Linked DNA regions of Homo sapiens: region 1 is linked to region 2. Evidence: fine-mapped expression QTL. A gene starts in region 2. The other region holds a variant in brackets. All regions are shown on one strand. Distances are between the middles of the regions. Region 1 overlaps TET3 (tet methylcytosine dioxygenase 3). Region 2 holds the start of WDR54 (WD repeat domain 54).

Region 1 (8,000 bases), 380 kb after region 2:
CTGGGATTACAGGTGTGAGCCCCCATGCCTGGTCTAAATGTCTGCTTTCTGTCTGGACTTCTCAACTACCCTCCAGCTAGCTCCAACCCCTAGACCATGCCGTAAGCCCACTGAGAGTCAGCTTGTCTAAAACAGAACTGAACTCTCCCTCCTGAGAGCAACTTTCCCAACTTTCCTATTTTTGCATTCACCAACATTCCCAACCCAAATGTTACCCATATTCTTCCAATGTGTGCAGTCATTGGATCCAAACAATTCTAAATGTGAACTGTCTCTCAATTTTATCTCCTCCCTTTCCATCCCTGCCTTCCCAATCTGGGTCCTTCTGTGTGTATGTTTTAATTGTCTCACCTGACAGTCGGTCCTTTAAGCAACTCTATGTATCCCCAAGCCCCCTCCCTGACCACACATATGTGTGCATGCACACACACCACACACACACTCTTCTCCACTCTACAATCTCTTGAACATACCCTCTCTTAAGACTCCCAGCCACCAACTTCATAACTCTTCCTCATTGTCCACCCTGGCTTCAATCTTCAGTTTAAGAATGCCATTCATATGCATCGAGTGCTTAATACGTGTGACATACTGTGTGTTCCAAAGATAGCCACAACATTCCCTCCATTCCACATGCTCTTCTTACTGTGTGACTTGGACATTTCCCCCATGGAGAGGTGGGGGTCTATGTTCCCTCCTCTTCAATCTGGGTGGGCTCGTGATAATAGAAGTGATGCTACATGACTTTCAAAGCTAGATCATAAAAGGCAATTCAGCTTCTGCCTGGTTCTCTTGGGATTCTCACTCTTGGAGCCCAGTCACCATGCTGTGAGGAAGCCCAGGCCATGTGGAGAGGCCACATGGAGGAGTCAGCTGACATTCCCAGCTGAGGTCCCAGCCAACAGCTGCCATCATCTGCCAAATGTGTGAGTGAAGGAGCCCTTCGAGGATTCCAGCCCAGTCATTAAGTTACCTCCAGCTTTTATGCCTTCCTAGCTGAGACCCTAAATATTAAGGAACATATAGAAGCTACCCATGCTGTTGTCACTTCTGACTTCCCAATCCACAGAATCCCTGGGCATAACAAAATGATTACTGTTTTATACTACTGTGTTTTGGGGTGATTTGTTGCCTGACAATAGACCAGACTATGTATTTCAGGACCCCAAAAAGTTTTAAGATGAAAAGGAAGAAAAAGGCCTATATATAAGTCAATGCCCTAAATCATATCAGTGCTGTGAAAGCAGTATCTACAGGGGCCTGTGGTGGCTCAGTATATACAGCTATCTGGGCAGGTGGGCAGGTGGGTGTCCAGGAAGGTTTTATCTCAAAGAAATCTCAGAGAGGCTGGAGAAAGTAGCAGGTATTTTGGAAGAAGGGGAAGAATTCTGCAGGAGTTCCAGATGGAAGGAATAGCATGTGAAAAGGCACAGAATCATAAGCCCTGGCAGGCTTGGAGATGCATAAGCTGTTGAGTGTATCTTGATCGCAAAGGCAGGGGAGGCAGGTGTGTGGACCACAGCCTGAATGCTACAGAGAGCAGATTTACATCTCAGGAGGGGCATTCAGGCATCTTGCAGAAGACAGACTGCAGGGTTCGAGGCTGGTGACCCAAAGACCAGTTAGGAGACTATGCAACTGTCCAGATTAGTAACAATAAGGACCTGAACTAAGGCACTAGCAGACAGATGGGGATGAAACGTGGTTATGGAGGTTAAGTGATTAAATTTAGCAGTGAGACAAGGAACAGAATCAATCCCTCCCTGAGAAAGTCCTCCTTGACCAGTCCTTTCCACCACAGGCTGCCCCAGAGCCTACAGTTACCGTGCACAGCCACGTTCTGTTAGGGATCTTTTCGTAAGAGTGTATGGTCAACTACACCATTTGCTCCTAGGGAACCAGGCATCTGCCACACCTTCAAAACCTACCGGAGTCTCTAGAATGCATTCAAAAAGCTCTGTCACTGCTTCCTCCCTAGGGACCTGGCTGGTGCAAGCCTCATCACCCCTATACTTTGAGATGACCCATGGAAGCTCTAGGCAGAGTTGGTGATCTCTCTGCTATTATGGCACCCATTACAATGCACACATGGTAGAGGTCTGCAAAGGCTACAGGGGCCTCCAGAGAAGCCCAAGGTGCTAGTGCTGCACATCTTACTGCCAACTTCCAGGTGCAAACCCCTTTTCCCTGCCCTCGCTGGGTCCTCACACCCAACCCCATCAGGTTTCTTCCCTGCTTCACAATATCACTGAAAGGGGGTATGCCCATCCCAGGCTAGGTCTTCCCCAAGTTGGAGGTGTGTTCCCATCACCTAGGGGCAGCAGGAATTTGTTACTAGGAGACTGAGAGGCAGGAAACATTACTCAGGCAGAGAAAATGCCCTTCTCAGATCCAAGAAGAGACATAACTCTTCACTACACTCCATGAAGAGTTCATATGTGCATACAGCATCGCCAACCCCAGTCACATTTCCCACCTTCAGAGAGCTGGGGACCCTGTGCTGAAGGTGACCCTGCACCCCGCCTGGCTAGCTCACAAGGTCCCCTGCCTCCTCCTCTACAGTGCACTGTCTTCTTAGACTCCCAAATCCCCAGAGCTGGTCCTCCAGACATCTGCAGGCATTCAACAGCAGCACCCTGCTCTCCCCACCCAGGGGACTCCAGAGCCCCCCAGATGCCAGGCAAGGCTGGAAAAGTGTGGAACGCCACTCCCCAAACACCTCGTTCAGTCAACAACACAGTGAAGGATACAGATATGACACCAGGTTTCCCAAATCCTTCCTTACTCTCAACACATCAAAACCAGATCAGCAATTCTCTATTAAAGGAAAATAGGGAAGAGAGAAGACAAGAATGTTATCTTGAAAGAGCAAAGTCCTGATTGGCTATACCTTCTTAAGGCCTTTAAGAAAGGGGAAGTTACAAGAGGAACAGAGTCTGGAGGGCTGTTTTGCTGACTGTCAGCAGTTACACACCATATTAGAAGAACCATGTCCAAGAAGGTGTTTTTGGCCAGAATGAACTAGCCTGTAGTCAACCTTCAGAGCCCAGTAGCCCATTCTCTGCAAAGGAATCTCCTGAAGCGAATTCTCATGGGACTCCAAGATAGTGGTGGCAACACCCCACCCTGCTAAGCCAGTAAACTCCACCCAGTACTTTCCCAACCACACATACCACCAGCTCAGCTACTCTGATCCACAGCAGCTGTTCAAGGGGCTGCTCTTTCCAGCCTCATCCTTTATCTCAGTCCTAGAGTTCAGAATCCACCTCCTTACAAAGCTAATTCCTTCTTCCTTGCCACCAAATGGATGGCCCCACTCTCTCTAATAGCAAATGGGTTGTATTTATGGCATGTTCTGTCTAGGGTTGATCAATTATTCATTTCTTAAGAGGATTCTCCCTTCGGAAGATTTATTGATAAAACTAATAAGCGAGTGCAGAAAGAGAGTTTTAGGGGAACCCTTGCAGAGGAGGTGCACATCTGCCTGTTCTTGCAGAAGTGAGTGTGTGCCCATGGGCACACTGGCTAGCCCAGTCCCATGTCTGCACCCTCCATACCCAAACTGGCCACCTCTGCAGACAGCAACTCCAGGATTATGTCTAACTTCTTGAGAGCATTATACGTTGGCAGAGGGTATTCTTATATGGGGGGAGGGGGAGGCAGTTGTTCTTGTGGTTACTACATGCATACCAGTAAAACATTTTAAAATCTAATTTTTTTTCCTACTACAAAATGGGCAGATACAGCAAATCTGTCAGTGGCTGGGGTGATACTTAGAAAAAAGCTGAAATGGGCCTAATTCCCTGAGGTCATCATATCTGGCAGAAGCACAGGACTTTGTTCATGTCCTCTGACCTAACAGTAACTAATGTGGGTTCGAGGAAGAAAGGAAAAGAAGGAACCAGGAAAAGTCTCTACGTGACTCTGATGGAACCCTCTTATGACAGGCAGAGTATCATGCAAATTGTCGCACATTCACTTATCTCATTTAATCACCACAGGCTCCTCCAAGGTGGAGATCAGAGATAAGGACACTAAACACAGAGAGGGCAAGTAATTGCCTCAAGATCACAAGGCAATGTGGAAGAGCACAGCCATTTTTAACCACTAAGTACTCTTAATTTCACTGGAAATGTAAAAGTAAACAAGCCAACAGAAGACATAAAAAAGCTACATGTGCCAATGATTTTCCCTCAAGCATGAACAGCAGAGAATTACAAACAACCTGAGTGCCCCAACAATAGGGAGATGGTTTTAAATTTTATATTTCTTCTTCATGAAAAGGGAATAAACATATGAAAAAATACTCAGTATCATCAGTAATCAGAAAAATACAAAAGAAGATCACAAGAAGATTCCATTTTACACCTATTACGTAGGACTGAAGAGGAAGAACATTTAGTTTGAATCGTGGCCCCACCACTTACTAGCTGTGTGACCATAAGCAAGTTAGCTAATCTCTCTGCGCCTCTGTTTTGTCACCTGTAAATTGGGGATGAGTAACAGTACCTATCTCACAAGATTATTATGAAAATTAAACAATATATGAAGAGCATTTATAACAGTACCAGGTACATAGTAAGCACCGCGAGAGGGTATTTTAGTTTAATACCAAGTGC[C/T]GACGGGGTTTAGCAAGAACTTTTTTTTGAGACAGAGTCTCACTCTGTCGCCCAGGCTGGAGTGCAGTGGTGGGATCTTGGCTCATTGAAACCTCTGCCTCCCGGGCTCAATGATTCTTGTACCTCAGTCTCCCAAGTAGCTGGGACTACAGGCGCACAACATCACACCCAGCTTGCTTGCTTATTTATTTATTTAGTAGAGAAGGGGTTTCATTATGTTGGTCAGGCTAGTCTCAAACTCCTGGCCTCAAGGGATCCACCCACCTCGGCCTCCCAAAGTGTTGGGATTACAGGCAGGAGCCACCACATACTTTTTTTGAAACAGAGTCTCACTCTGTCGCCCAGGCTGGAGTGCAATGGCACGATCTCGGCTCAATGCAACCTCCACCTCCTGGGCTCAAGTGATTCTCTTGCCTCAGCCTCCCGAGTAGCTGGGATTACAGGCGCCCACCACCATGCCCAGCTCATTTTTGTATTTTTAGTAGAGACAGGGTTTCACCATGTTGGTCAAGCTGCTTTCAAACTCCTGACCTCAAACCACCATGCCCGGCCCCAATAACTACATTTTTTTTTTTCTTTTTGAGATGGAGTCTTGCTCTGTTGCCCAGGCTGGAGTGCAGTGGCGCGATCTCGGCTCACTGCAAGCTCCGCCTCCCAGGTTCACGCCATTCTCCTGCCTCAGCCTCCCGAGTAGCTGGGATTACAGGTGCCCACCACCATGCCCAGCTCATTTTTGTATTTTTAGTAGAGACAGGGTTTCACCATGTTGGCCAGGCTGGTTTTGAACTCCTGACCTCAAACCACCATGCCCGGCCCCAATAACTTTTTTTTTTTTTTTTTTTTGAGACGGAGTCTCACTCTGTTGCCCAGGCTGGAGTGCAGTGGCGCGATCTTGGCTCACTGCAAGCTCCGCCTCCCAGGTTCACACCATTCTCCTGCCTCAGCCTCCCGAATAGCTGGGACTACAGGCGCCCGCCACCATACCTGGCTGATTTTTTTTTTTTTTTTGTATTTTTTAGTAGAGACAGGGTTTCACCATGTTAACCAGGATGGTCTTGGTCTACTGACCTCGTGATCTGCTTGCCTCAGCCTCCTAAAGTGCTGGGATTACAGGCATAGCCACTGCGCCCGGCCCTCAACAACCACTTCTTATACCTCACTGGCAGGAAGGCAAAACAGAACAAATACTTTGAAAAGGTTTGTGGTGCTACCTTTTAATGTCAAACATGCACATCTCCTACAGCCCAGCAATCCGACTCCTAGGAAAGCTTTGTACACATGCATCAGGAGACATGTACAGAAATTTTCATGGCAGCATTACTCATAAAAATCACATCATGGAAGTATTTCTAAAGGAGCATAAACTACAGAATGGACAATGGAATATTATAGAGCAGTGTCAATGAATGAGCCACAGGAACATCAATGAATCCCAGAATCTACAACAGGGTTTTTTTTTTTTTTTTTTTAATCAATGCTCGAGGACTACATATGTCCTACTGAGTCTACAAACCTCAAACAAGCAAGCAAAATTAAATGTATTGTACAGAAATGCAAACTTATATAATGAAGACTTTAAAAAGCAAGGGAATGATAACAAAATTCAAGGTAATGGTTACCTCTGGAGGTGAAGAAGGGAGATAGGGCTGGGGGAAAACACCCAGGTAATTTCAATGATGTTGGCAATATTCCAGCTAACTTGGGGAACTGGCATGTGTTTATTATTATGCTTTATCTGTTTAACATATATAAAATACTAGGGTCAAGTATGGTTCAAGTAATACATAAAAAAAAAAACTATAATACAGCCATACCTTGTTTTATTGTGCTTCATTCTATTGTGTTTCACAGATACTGGGGGTGGTTTGTTGTTTTTTTTTTTTAATGACGAATTTAAGGTTTGTGGCAACCTCACATTGGGCAAGTCTCTTTTTCTTTTTTTTTCTCTGAGACAGAGTGTTGCTCTTGTTGCCCTGACTAAAGTGCAATGGCACGATCTCGGCTCACTGCAACCTCCGCCTCCTGGGTTCAAGCGATTCTCCTGCCTCAGCCTCCCAAGTAGCTAGGATTACAGGTGCCCACCACTATCCCTGGCTAATTTTTGTGTTTTTAGTAGAGATGGGATTTGGCCATGTTGGCCAGGCTGGTCTCGAATTCCTGACCTCAGGTGATCCGCCCGCCTCAGCCTCCCAAAGTGCTGGGATTACAGGAGTGAGCCACCGTGCCCAGCCACATTGGGCAAATCTTACTGGTGTCATTTTCAATAGCATGTGCTTACTTTGTTAGCATTTTTTGGCAAAAATGTATTTTAAAATTAAGGTATGTACACATTTTTTTAGCCATAATACTATCACACACTTGCTAGACTACAATATAATGTAAACACAACTTTTACATGCACTGGGAAACCAAAAAGTTCACGTGACCAGCTGTACTGCCATATTCACTTTATTGCAGTGGTTTAGAGCTGGACCTGCAGTATCTCCAACGTATGCCTGTTTATAATATTTAATCAGTAGATGTACACAACTGCTTAAAATGATATGGAATAAGAACATAAAACTAAATGTATTAAATGAAAAAGTGAAACTTGAGAATGTACTTATTAAATGAATGCTTTCAGAAGGTTTTTATGATGGGGGAAGTACATAATATTTGAAATGGGGGAAAAAATAGGATTCAAAATATTGCCCAATTTAACAGTTCAATTCAATCACAACGCATGCCTGTGTAAACACACAAAACAGCAAGGGGAATCATACAGAAATGTTAACAGTGCTTATCCTCTGCGTGATAGAGGATGAGTAACTTTCTCGTTTATAGTTTCCAAAATTTATCATAGGTATTTTCATTTTTATTTAGGGGAAAAAGATTTAAGAATAGAACACCTATAAAACACCTGAAACTGCAAACTACACATGTCTGTGAACGAGACGAGAAGGGAGCAGTCAGGGAAAATTTCTGGGTATTTTTTGTGCTATTTCTGTTGCTAGAGAGCTGTACGCAGTTATAACACAGAGGCAGATCACACATAATGCAGAAAGAAAATGAAGAAAATTTCTAAGAGATGAGACGCACTGGAAGGTGAAGATAAGCCTAGTTGAGATGGGGTGCCAAGCCTGAAACTCCCACCCATTAAAAGTTCTATGTAACTAACTTGCTGTTCTCGGACCAGAACTCCAAAATATAGCCCTGCAACTCTAACCTATGCAAAGTTATCGCCTGGGCAGCACACGCTCCCCTGCAGCAGGTGGGGGTGAAGGGGGAGCACAGCTGCTGGCTGCTCTGCAGGCTCCCCATGCCCCACCCCTAGCCTCTTGATCTGCGGCCCAGAGCAGGATCCAGCTCTCCTGACGGAAGCCCCTGCCTCAAGCAGCCGGT
Region 2 (9,594 bases):
GTACAGAGGAGGAGACTTACCTTGCCCACCTCAGAAGCCAGGTCCAGGGCGCAGATGGCCCGGGCATGGGCATTGATCTGGACATGTAGATTTCCTGTAGTGGCCTCATATAGATGCACTTGTCCGTTCCCATAGCCTGCTGCTATGATCCCCTGCCACAGCTGCACAGAGGGGCACGGAACTCTGCAAGGGTGACACCCAACTTTGTTTTGCCCAGATCAAATCCTACTCCCCAGCCTGAAGCTATCTCAGGAAGCCCTCTACCCTTTCTGCCTCACCTACCCAAATCCTGGAATGCGGGTCAATAATGTGAATTCTGGCCCTGACCGCCAGACACACAGCAAGCCTGAGTCATCTGCCGTCACCATGTCAGCCACACAATCCTGAAGGGAAAGGCAAGATCAACCCTTCCCTTTCTCCCCTGCTATGGTCCTGTATACAGGGCAGGAGGGGAAGGGAGGCAGTGTGTGCATCTTTGCCTCTCCAGGGAAAGGGCAAGGTGTGGAGCTCTCACTAGCTAGACCCATCAGAAACCACCCCTACCACCAGGGTTCCCTTGGGAAGCATGAACTGCTTTCCTTGAATTTCTTCATGGAGTCCCATCCCCCAATAACATTAGGAGGGGGTGCATAATTGCCTCACTGGATGGATGATAAAACTGAGGCCACAGTGTCGTGACCTTCTGGAGGTCTCGTAGTGAACCAGTCACAGTCATGACTAGACCCTGGGCCCCTGCACCCCCAACACCAGGCAGCCAACACAACCTATGGGCCTAGCCCTATGCCAGGTACAATGGAGAATATGAATAAGAAAATATACACCCTGTTCTCAAGAGGTTTGCAAATTACTTGGGGAGACAAGAGTTGTCTTTTGAGGGCAGTGCCAATTCAGGTTTCAGCTAAGAGACATCAGTGGGAGCTAGAATATGGGGAAGGCTTCCTGGAGAGGATGGATGGCACTGGAGCTGGGCCTGAATAGGTGGGACTTGCCCTAGAGAAGGAAGCTGCACATTTCAGAGCTGGAAAGTATCTTAGAAACCATTTGTTCCAACTCCTCATTTCACATCAGTATTATAAAGTCTTAATTAACTATAAAATACTACATAAATGTAAAGTATCTCTGGCTTTATCACTGAACCTGGTTGCTGAAGACTAGGAAAATGTAGATTTGCCCAAAGCCATCCACCTGTTTAGTGGCAGAGCCAAGACTCAAAGCCAGGTCCCCTGCCTCCCAGGGTGGGGAAGGCTCCCAGATGGGTAGGGGAAGTCCACTCACCTGTCCCTGGGCAGGCTCGGTGGCAATGTCTGTGATTGGCATCTGGTGCCCAGCCAGCTCCTCGCTCAGTACAATGTTGGGACCCTTTGCTGGGATGTCAAACACCAGCACCCGGCCTGACCACGTTCCTGTATCCAGAACCAGTACTCCAGTGATGACTTCCTGACCCTCCTGGGTCTCCAGCCACCATACTCAACACTTACTCCATCCCAGAAACCTTAGTAACAAAACCCCCTCTCACTGCTCCAACGGCCATGCCCCTTCATTCACTAGCCTTGTCTTATCCCACCCTGACCCTCTGAACCCTTCCATGGTTTACTGGAGTCTCTGATTCCACTCCACTTCCACCCTTCCCTCTAACTTTCCACAATTTCCTCAGGCCCTCATTATTCTCCTGGCCACAGCCCACATGCCCCAGCACCCCTCCATGCCCTGCACTTGGCTCCCTCACCCACACAGATGAAGTGGCCACTGGCAGCAATTCCCCGGGCAAACACAGCCTGTACTGAATATGAAAGGGGAGAATGATCAGAAATATCCCCTCCTGCAGCCCTAGCAAACACTCCCTGCCCCCACCCCACTTGGTCCTGCAGGTACCTGGGGAGGCATCTCCAGAGTCCAGTGCATGCCAGTAGACCATGGTGTAGCCATTGGACTCGTACATCTGGAAGACCGGGGCAAGAACCAGGGGGCATAACCCAACTGACCTCTGCTGAGTACTTCACATATCCGTGTTAGCCTTAGCCCATTTAATCCTCAAAACAAATCTGGGATGTAGGTACTATTTTTATCCTAATTTTTTCAGAGGACAACAGTGAGAGTGAGAAGTTAATAGTGTAAGGACATACAGCTAGTAAAGGGGCAGATACTGGAGGTGGCACTTGGAAACTGGAAAAGATGGAAAGATTGAAGATAAGAAATAGAAAAAGAGTGAGTGGGCCAAGCATGTGAAAAGTCTGGAAGTGTTTAGAGGCAAGTGGGAAAGTCTGGAAGCCTGGCAGGGAAGCTGAGAAGGCTCTGGTGGGGCAAGCAGGAGAGTCCTCTTCTTACCTGTATTCCTCGATGTGAGGTGAGTACCAGCAGCACTCGGAAGGGGAGGACACACCAGTGGACCTGGAGGGAGGTGCATCAGTGTAGGGAGAAAATCAAAGCAGGGAAGATGAGTTTGTTTGTTTTTTTTTTTTTTTTGGGGGACGGAGTCTTGCTCTGTGGCCCAGGCTGGAGTGCAGTGGCGCCATCTCGGCTCACTGCAACCTCAGCCTCCTGGGTTCAAGCGATTCTCCTGCCTCAGCCACCCAAGTAGCTGGGATTACAGGTGCACGCCACCACACCCGGTTAATTTTTTTTGTATTCTTAGTAGAGAAGAGGTTTCACCATGTTGGCCAGGCTGGTCTCGAACTCCTGGCCTCAAGTGCCCGTCTCAGCCTCCCAAAGTGTTGGGATTACAGGCGTGAGCCACCGCGCCCGGCAGGAGAGGGGAGATTCTGAGGTTAGGACATGCCTGGGGAGATTCTGAGGTTAGGACATGCCTGCTCCTGAAGGTTTGGAGAGAAAAGGCTGGGGGTAGGACTGGGTTCAGCAACATCACTCCCAGCTCCATGCCTCACCTGAGTGATAAGTGGGGGACTCACTCCAGCACCCTCCTTAGCGTGGAGCTGGCGCTGGGCCAAGGGCACACCCTCAGGAGCAGCGCTGAGAAGCTGGGCGCTTGGTCCATGAACCACGCCAAAATACGTGAGGTTGCGAGCCGGCAGCTGCAGCACACTGAGGTTGTTGCACAGGGCGGCGGCCGAGCCTCGCAGGGGAATGGAGCGCTCCCAGCGGAACATCCTGTGTGGGGGTGCAGCCGAATCACCAGGCGCGCTACAAACAGACGCAGCGGAGATGCCCGAGGGCGGCTATCATCGAGCATTTCGGAAGATGCCTGAGACTGGGTCATAGGATGGGGTGCCCAGAGGACGGTGATGGGGGAGGGTCTCGAGGAGCAAGACAGGGGAGTCCCAGGGCTGTTTTGGGGCGACGGGGGAATCGCAGAGGAGGAATGGGGATGACACAGGACCACCCGATGGCCCCAAGCCCGCGAGCCAAATAAGTGTGATGAAGCCCCCAAGGCTTTCTCCCTCGGCTCGGATCCCTGAAGCCCCCGGCCTAGATCAGAGGTAACACCTGCAGCCCCAGATCGGCTCGCCTGACTCCTGGTTCGTAGGGTCCCTCCAAATCCGCCGCCACCATAGAGACGACGCACGTACGCACGGCCCTTGGGCGGGGTGAGCGGCCGGAACGTGCCGCGGGCGGCGCGGTTGCCGGGGCAACTGTGGGCGGGGCGAGCGACCCCGAGCCCGTGGTTGCCCAGGCGACTGTTAGGTGGCTTACGCGGCCCGGATGCAGCAGAAACACCAGCGTTGCTGCGACCGCGTTGGCGATGGCGCACGAAGGCTCGGTGAGCTTCAGTTCAGCTGGGGATGCGCCAGAGCCAGGGTCGGCCGTTAAGGTCGGTGTCGGGAACAGTGGGCTGGCTCTGGGCCGCCCAGTGCCCCTACTTGCTCCCGCCCACCGCGCGGGAGTTTAGATGACCAAGGAAGCCACGTCGGTACTCGGGCAGAAAACCTACACCTGCACGGTGCCCACTCAAACGCTTTGTTACACTCAAGCCATGAGGGAAAGGGTCAGTGGGTGGTGTAGAGCCCGAGAACAGGAAGTGGATTTTGAAACAGCTAATGAATGTAGTAAGTCTCTTACATGGTGGTGCGTATTTAAATGGATGAGCATTTAGAGAGGGAAGATAACAGAAAAAATCTATTTCGAGAATTTCAAGAGGAAGAAATATATTAAATAATTCAGAGACTGCACTTGAAAGTCAAATTGTTTAAGAGCCAATCAATTTTAAAATAAAGAAAACGGGGCCGGTCTCAATGGCTCATGCCTGTAATCCCAGCACTTTGAGAGGCTGAGGCGGGAGGATTGCCTGAGCTCAGGAGTTCAAGACCAGCCAGGCCAACATGGCGAGACCCCGTCTCGACTAAAATACAAAAAATTAGCTGGATGTGGTGGCGCGGTGCCTGTAATCCCAGCTACTCGGGAGGCAGAGGCAGGAGAATTGCTTGAACTCGGGAGGCGGAGGTTGCAGTGAGCCGAGATCGCGCCACTGCGCTCTAGCCTGGGTGACAGAGAGAGACTGTCTCAAAAAAAAAAAAAAAAAAAAAAAAAAAAGAAGAAGAAGAAAGAAAACGGATTTGAAGAGCCTTTGTGCAAAAATATCTCTGTCCCTTCTGGTCACCATCACGGGTGTCAGATGCGAGGCTGGGAGGGGAGGTCTAAGGAAACAACTCTCTTTACTCAGTCCAGTCAGCCCTGCTCTAGTCAAGCTTGGCCTGGGCTATGGGCCACTCCTGGTGCTTGCTACAGGGCTGTTCTCACTGGTGGATAGGGTTAATGAGACTTCAGGGATTTTGAGTTCTGCAAGACTTAGGAAACAGCAGATTTGGGGGGATAATGAATTTTAGGAAACAGATATGAGACAAGGTTTTAGCGGGGCAATAGGCAAAGGTTTGGGAAGATCACATTTGGAAGTACATTTTGGAAGGAACCAGGTTCAGGGAGACTGTTGTGGGGAATTGAGGGAGCTCCCAAGAGATTGTTTGTAAACTTTTTATGTCTCTAAAGTGAGTTTTGGGGACTAGTCTTTTTTTTTTTTTAAGTGATTACAAAAGGAAACAAACTCATTGTAGAGAACTTACAAAATAGAAAAGAGCATAGGAAGGAAACGTATCCTCTGTTATCATTTTGAAGTTTTCCTTTTGTTGAACACATAGTGGTTTACATATATGAGATCATAATTGATGTGTAAGTTTGTATCCTGCTTCTTTCAATTAACGTTACATCATAAACATTTGCTTTATGCCATTGCAAATTCTTTCTAAAGATTACCTTTAATGGCTGGGTTGGTGGCTCATGCCTGCAAGGTGGGCAGATCACTTGAGGCCAGTTCAAGACCAGTCTGGCCAACATGGCGAAACCCCATCTCTACTAAAAATAGAAAAAAAATTAGCCAGGCCTGGTGGCAGGCGCCTGTAATCCCAGCTACTCCGGAGGCTGAGGCAGGAGAATTGCTTGAACCTGGGAGGCAGAGGTTGCAGTGAGCCGAGATCTTGCCACTGCACTCCAGCCTGGGTGACAGAGCGAGATTCCGTCTCAAAAACAAAAACAAACAAACAAAAAAAGATTACCTTTAATCATTGCATAATATTTCAGTATATATAGCATGTCAATTATTTATTCTCTTTTTAAAGACATGTTTTCAATATTCTGCTATTATAAAAATACCGCAGAGAATTTGTTGGAGAATATATTTTTATCTTCATTTCAGAAAATGCCTTTTGGTTGTATTTATAGAACTGAAATTGCAGGGTTGAGGAAGTGAAAACATTTTTTAATGTCTTCATGCATACTGTTGCAGCATGGTATCACACTAAACCTTTGCCAATGCTGAGTATTCTTGTTTTTAAAATAATTCCAATTTGATGAACTAGAAATCAGAATGTCAATACTATATTTATTAGTCATCTACAGTCCCTCTCTTGTGAAATGTCATGTCCTTTGCTTATCTTTGGGATCTTAAATGGTTTTTCTTCTTATAGTTTAAATTTTTATTGCAATATAGCCCAAGCTGGACTTGAACTCCTGGGCTCAAGCAATCCCCCTGCCTCAGCCTCCCGAGCAGCTGGTACTGTGGGTGTGCGCCACTGTGCCTGGCCATTTTTCTTCTTCTATTTTTTATTTTATTAGTTTTTTTTTTCTTTTTTGAGACAGAGTCTCGCTCTGTCACCCAGGCTGGAGTTCAGTAGCATGATCTCAGCTCACTGCAAACTCTGCCTCCCGGGTTCAAGTGATTCTCGTGCCTCAGCCTCCCTAGTAGCTGGAATTACAGGCGCCCACCACCATGCCTGGCTAATTTTTGTATTATTAGTAGAGACGGGGTTTCACCATGTTGGCTAGGCTGGTCTCGAACTCCTGACCTCAAATGATCCACCCACCTCGGCCTCCCAAAGTGCTGGGATTACAGGCGTGAGCCACTGCGCCCGGCCATTTTTTTTTTTATATGAGCTTTTAATTTACTCGGGGATATTTATCTTTTTTCATATTTGTTGCAAATGTCTTTGAGAGGCTCTGGAGTCAGACAGACTTGCATGTGAATGCATTCTGACTTCACTACATCCTACTTGTATGATACTGGGTAAATTACCATAAAATGGAGATAAGAATAGTTGGTTAAAAAAAAAAAATGTAGAGAACTTTTTAAGCTCCCCTGAGCCGGGGCTGTGCTCTTCTAAGTGGGACTCCGAGCCTGGGCTATTTCTGGCGCTGGCGCGGCTCCAGGAAGGCATCCGCATTTGCGACCAGGGGCGGCTGCGGTGGAGACTGGCCTGTCCTCAGCGCCCAGCACCGCTGCTCCCGGCAAACCGGAGCATGCACCGCAGGCCAGCGGCCGAGTTCGCCCATCCCAGCCATCACTTTTCCAACTAGTCCTTAGAGAAGGGAAGATGAGCGAGTCGAGCTCGAAGTCCAGCCAGCCCTTGGCCTCCAAGCAGAAAAAGGACGGCACTGAGAAGCGGGGCCGTGGCAGGCCGCGCAAGCAGCCTCCGGTGAGTCCCAGGACAGCGCTGGTAGGGAGTCAGAAGGAGCTCAGCGAAGTGCCAACACCTAAGAGACCTCGGGGCCGACCAAAGGGAAGCAAAAACAAGGGTGCTGCCAAGACCGGGAAAACCACCACAACTCTGGGAAGGAAACCAAGGGGAAGACCCAAAAAACTGGAGAAGGAGGAAGAGAAGGGCATCTCGCAGGAGTCCTCACTGGAGGAGCAGCTTCCTTCTGGGACTGGACAGCTTTGATCTGCTCCCAACCCCCCACCTCCCACCCCCCACCCCTTCCCTACACCCACCATCACCACCGCCTCCAGCCACCACCCTCATCTTCCACCTGCACCTTCACCACCACACTACACAACACACCAGCCGCTGCAGGTCCCTATGGGCTGAGTGGAGAGGACTTTTCCCCTGGCCTCTTCCCATCCCTACCCCCTCCTCCCCCCGTCCACCCACTCATACACATGTGCCCTCCTGGACAAGGCTAATGTCCTGCTTAGCCGCACCCTGCACCTGCTGCGTCCCTGATCCCTTGGTGGTGACATTGCTCTCTGGGCTTTTGGTTTGGGAGCCACTTCTCTGCTCCTCCACTGTTGCCTCTGGCTTCCCATAGAGGGGCCTGGGAGGGTTCCCCTGGTCTTAAAAGGGGCCCAAGCCCCCATTCTGGCACACCCCACTCCACTGTCCTGGCAGCAGCAGGTGTGGCCAATGGAGGGGGGTGCTGGCCCCCAGGATTCCCCCAGCCAAACTGTCTTTGTCACCACGTGAGGCTCACACCTTTCATCCTTCCCCACCTTCCCTAGTCCCTGCACTAGGTTGGACAGCCCCCATTGGCTACAGGAAAGCGGGAGGGGTGTGAGTCCCCTACTCCCTCTTTGCAGTGGCCCCAGCCCCCTTACCGTCTGCCTGGGATCTGAGTACATATTGCAGTGATGGAGATGCAGTCACCTATTGTCCAGGTGAGGCCCATGAGCCCTGTGGCAGCTACCTGAGGTGGGCTGGGGCTGCTCCCCCAACCCTACTTTGCTTCTACCACTTGGCCATTTTCCTCTCCTCAGATGGGGCACCAATAACAAGGAGCTCACCCTTCCCACTCCCAGCCCTCCTGCTCCTGCCACCCCCCCAGGTTCTGGTTCCATTTTTCCTTTGTTCACAAACTACCTCTGGACAGTTGTTTTGTTTTTGGTTCAATGTTCCATTCTTTGACATCTGTCATTGCTGCTGCTAGCAGCGCCAAATGTTCATCCACATTGCCTCCTGTTCTGCCCATGATCCCCTCCCCCAGGTTACTCTTCGTGGAGAAGAGGGGCTGGGGCATGGCAGGCTGGGTGACTGACTACTCCCCTAGGATGCTGCAGCAGAGAGAGCAAGGGGGCCCAAATCCACCATAAAGCATGTAGGGGCCACCTGCTCCCCCGGGTCTGTCAGGGAGGGGTAGCCATGATTTGTCCCAGCCTGGGGCTCCCCCTCTGGTTTCCTATTTGCAATTACTTGAATTAAAAAAAAAAAATCCTTTTCTGGAAAACAAAATGTAGAGAAGACTCTAAATAGCACCAATAATTCCAGGACTGTTTACTGAATTGTCTTTCTCAAGTAATTTGAACACTCAAGAATTTTGAACACTTTGCTCTGGTATAAGGGCCATGAAGTTAAACCTTCACATTGTCTGGGCTTGCTCACTGTGTGCTCCTAAGCAAGGCTGGTTAACTTCTGTCAGACTTCGGTTTCTTTTTTCTTTCTTTTTCTTTTTCTTTTTTTTTTTTTTTTTTTTTTTTGAGACGCAGTCTTGCTCTGTCGCCAGGCTGGGGTGCAGTGGCGCAGTCTCTGCTCACTGCAACCTCCATCTCCCGGGTTCAAGTGACTCTCCTTCCTCAGCCTCCCCACTTCAGTTTCTTTATCTGTCAATTGTGGTTAGTGGGCTGTTAATGAAAATTATTAGGTCAAACATCTACTAAGTATCTGTCACATAGTAGGCTCTTCGTCAATTGGCCCTTTTCCTTCCCACTAGACAACTTGAGAAAGCTTCCTCCTAGCCTATAGCTACTCTTCCGTTCCACTTCTTGGTTTCCTGCTCTGATTGCCATGTTTTGTTCTCACAGAGGCAGGAGAGGCAGGTCCGAGACCGCGGGGTGACCCGGTCCAAGGCGGAAAAAGTGCGGCCGCCCACTGTGCCAGTGCCGCAGGTGGATATTGTGCCTGGGCGGCTCAGTGAGGCCGAGTGGATGGCGCTTACAGCCCTCGAGGAGGGCGAGGACGTCGTAGGGGACATCTTGGCCGACTTGCTGGCTCGAGTCATGGACTCTGCTTTCAAAGTCTACCTGACTCAGCAGGTGGGCCGGGATCCGGGTCCTTCAGACTCGTCTCCCTCTCCCGCCCCTCCCTGCCGACCTGAGATCCTCTCTCGCCTCCGCAGTGCATTCCATTCACCATCAGCCAGGCCCGGGAGGCCATGCTGCAGATCACCGAGTGGCGCTTCCTGGCCCGGGACGAGGGAGAATCTGCAGTAGCTGAGGACCCCACATGGGGTGAGGACGAGGAGCCTTCGGCATGCACGACGGACTCCTGGGCTCAGGGTTCAGTGCCCGTGCTGCACGCGTCCACCTCGGAGGGCCTGGAGAACTTCCAAGGCGAAGTACACTCCTCAGGAGCCTCTCCGGACTCCTCTGCCATTGCTCCT

The links.
Region 1: its variant is fine-mapped to the expression of WDR54 in whole blood (TOPMed, PIP 0.93).

What each region holds. Positions count from the first base shown.
Region 1 is chr2:74,032,664-74,040,663 of GRCh38, reverse strand. All of the region lies in intron 3 of TET3 (tet methylcytosine dioxygenase 3), which reads right to left. Among named protein-coding and RNA genes, the nearest start is that of TET3, 52 kb to the right of the region's middle. RefSeq lists a silencer at 7,777-7,922 and an enhancer at 7,987-8,000. The variant C/T (reference allele first, on the strand shown) is at 4,620.
Region 2 is chr2:74,415,664-74,425,257 of GRCh38, reverse strand. It overlaps WDR54 (WD repeat domain 54), which reads right to left and starts at 3,528. Exons shown (of 10, transcript NM_032118.4): 1 at 3,442-3,528; 2 at 2,883-3,105; 3 at 2,326-2,388; 4 at 1,873-1,939; 5 at 1,727-1,780; 6 at 1,276-1,403; 7 at 283-383; 8 at 21-183. The coding sequence starts at 3,104. It overlaps C2orf81 (chromosome 2 open reading frame 81), which reads left to right and starts at 3,639. Exons shown (of 3, transcript NM_001316764.3): 1 at 3,639-3,715; 2 at 9,017-9,247; 3 at 9,331-9,594. The coding sequence starts at 3,698. It also overlaps the pseudogene HMGA1P8. RefSeq lists an enhancer at 2,849-3,028 and a silencer at 3,429-3,708.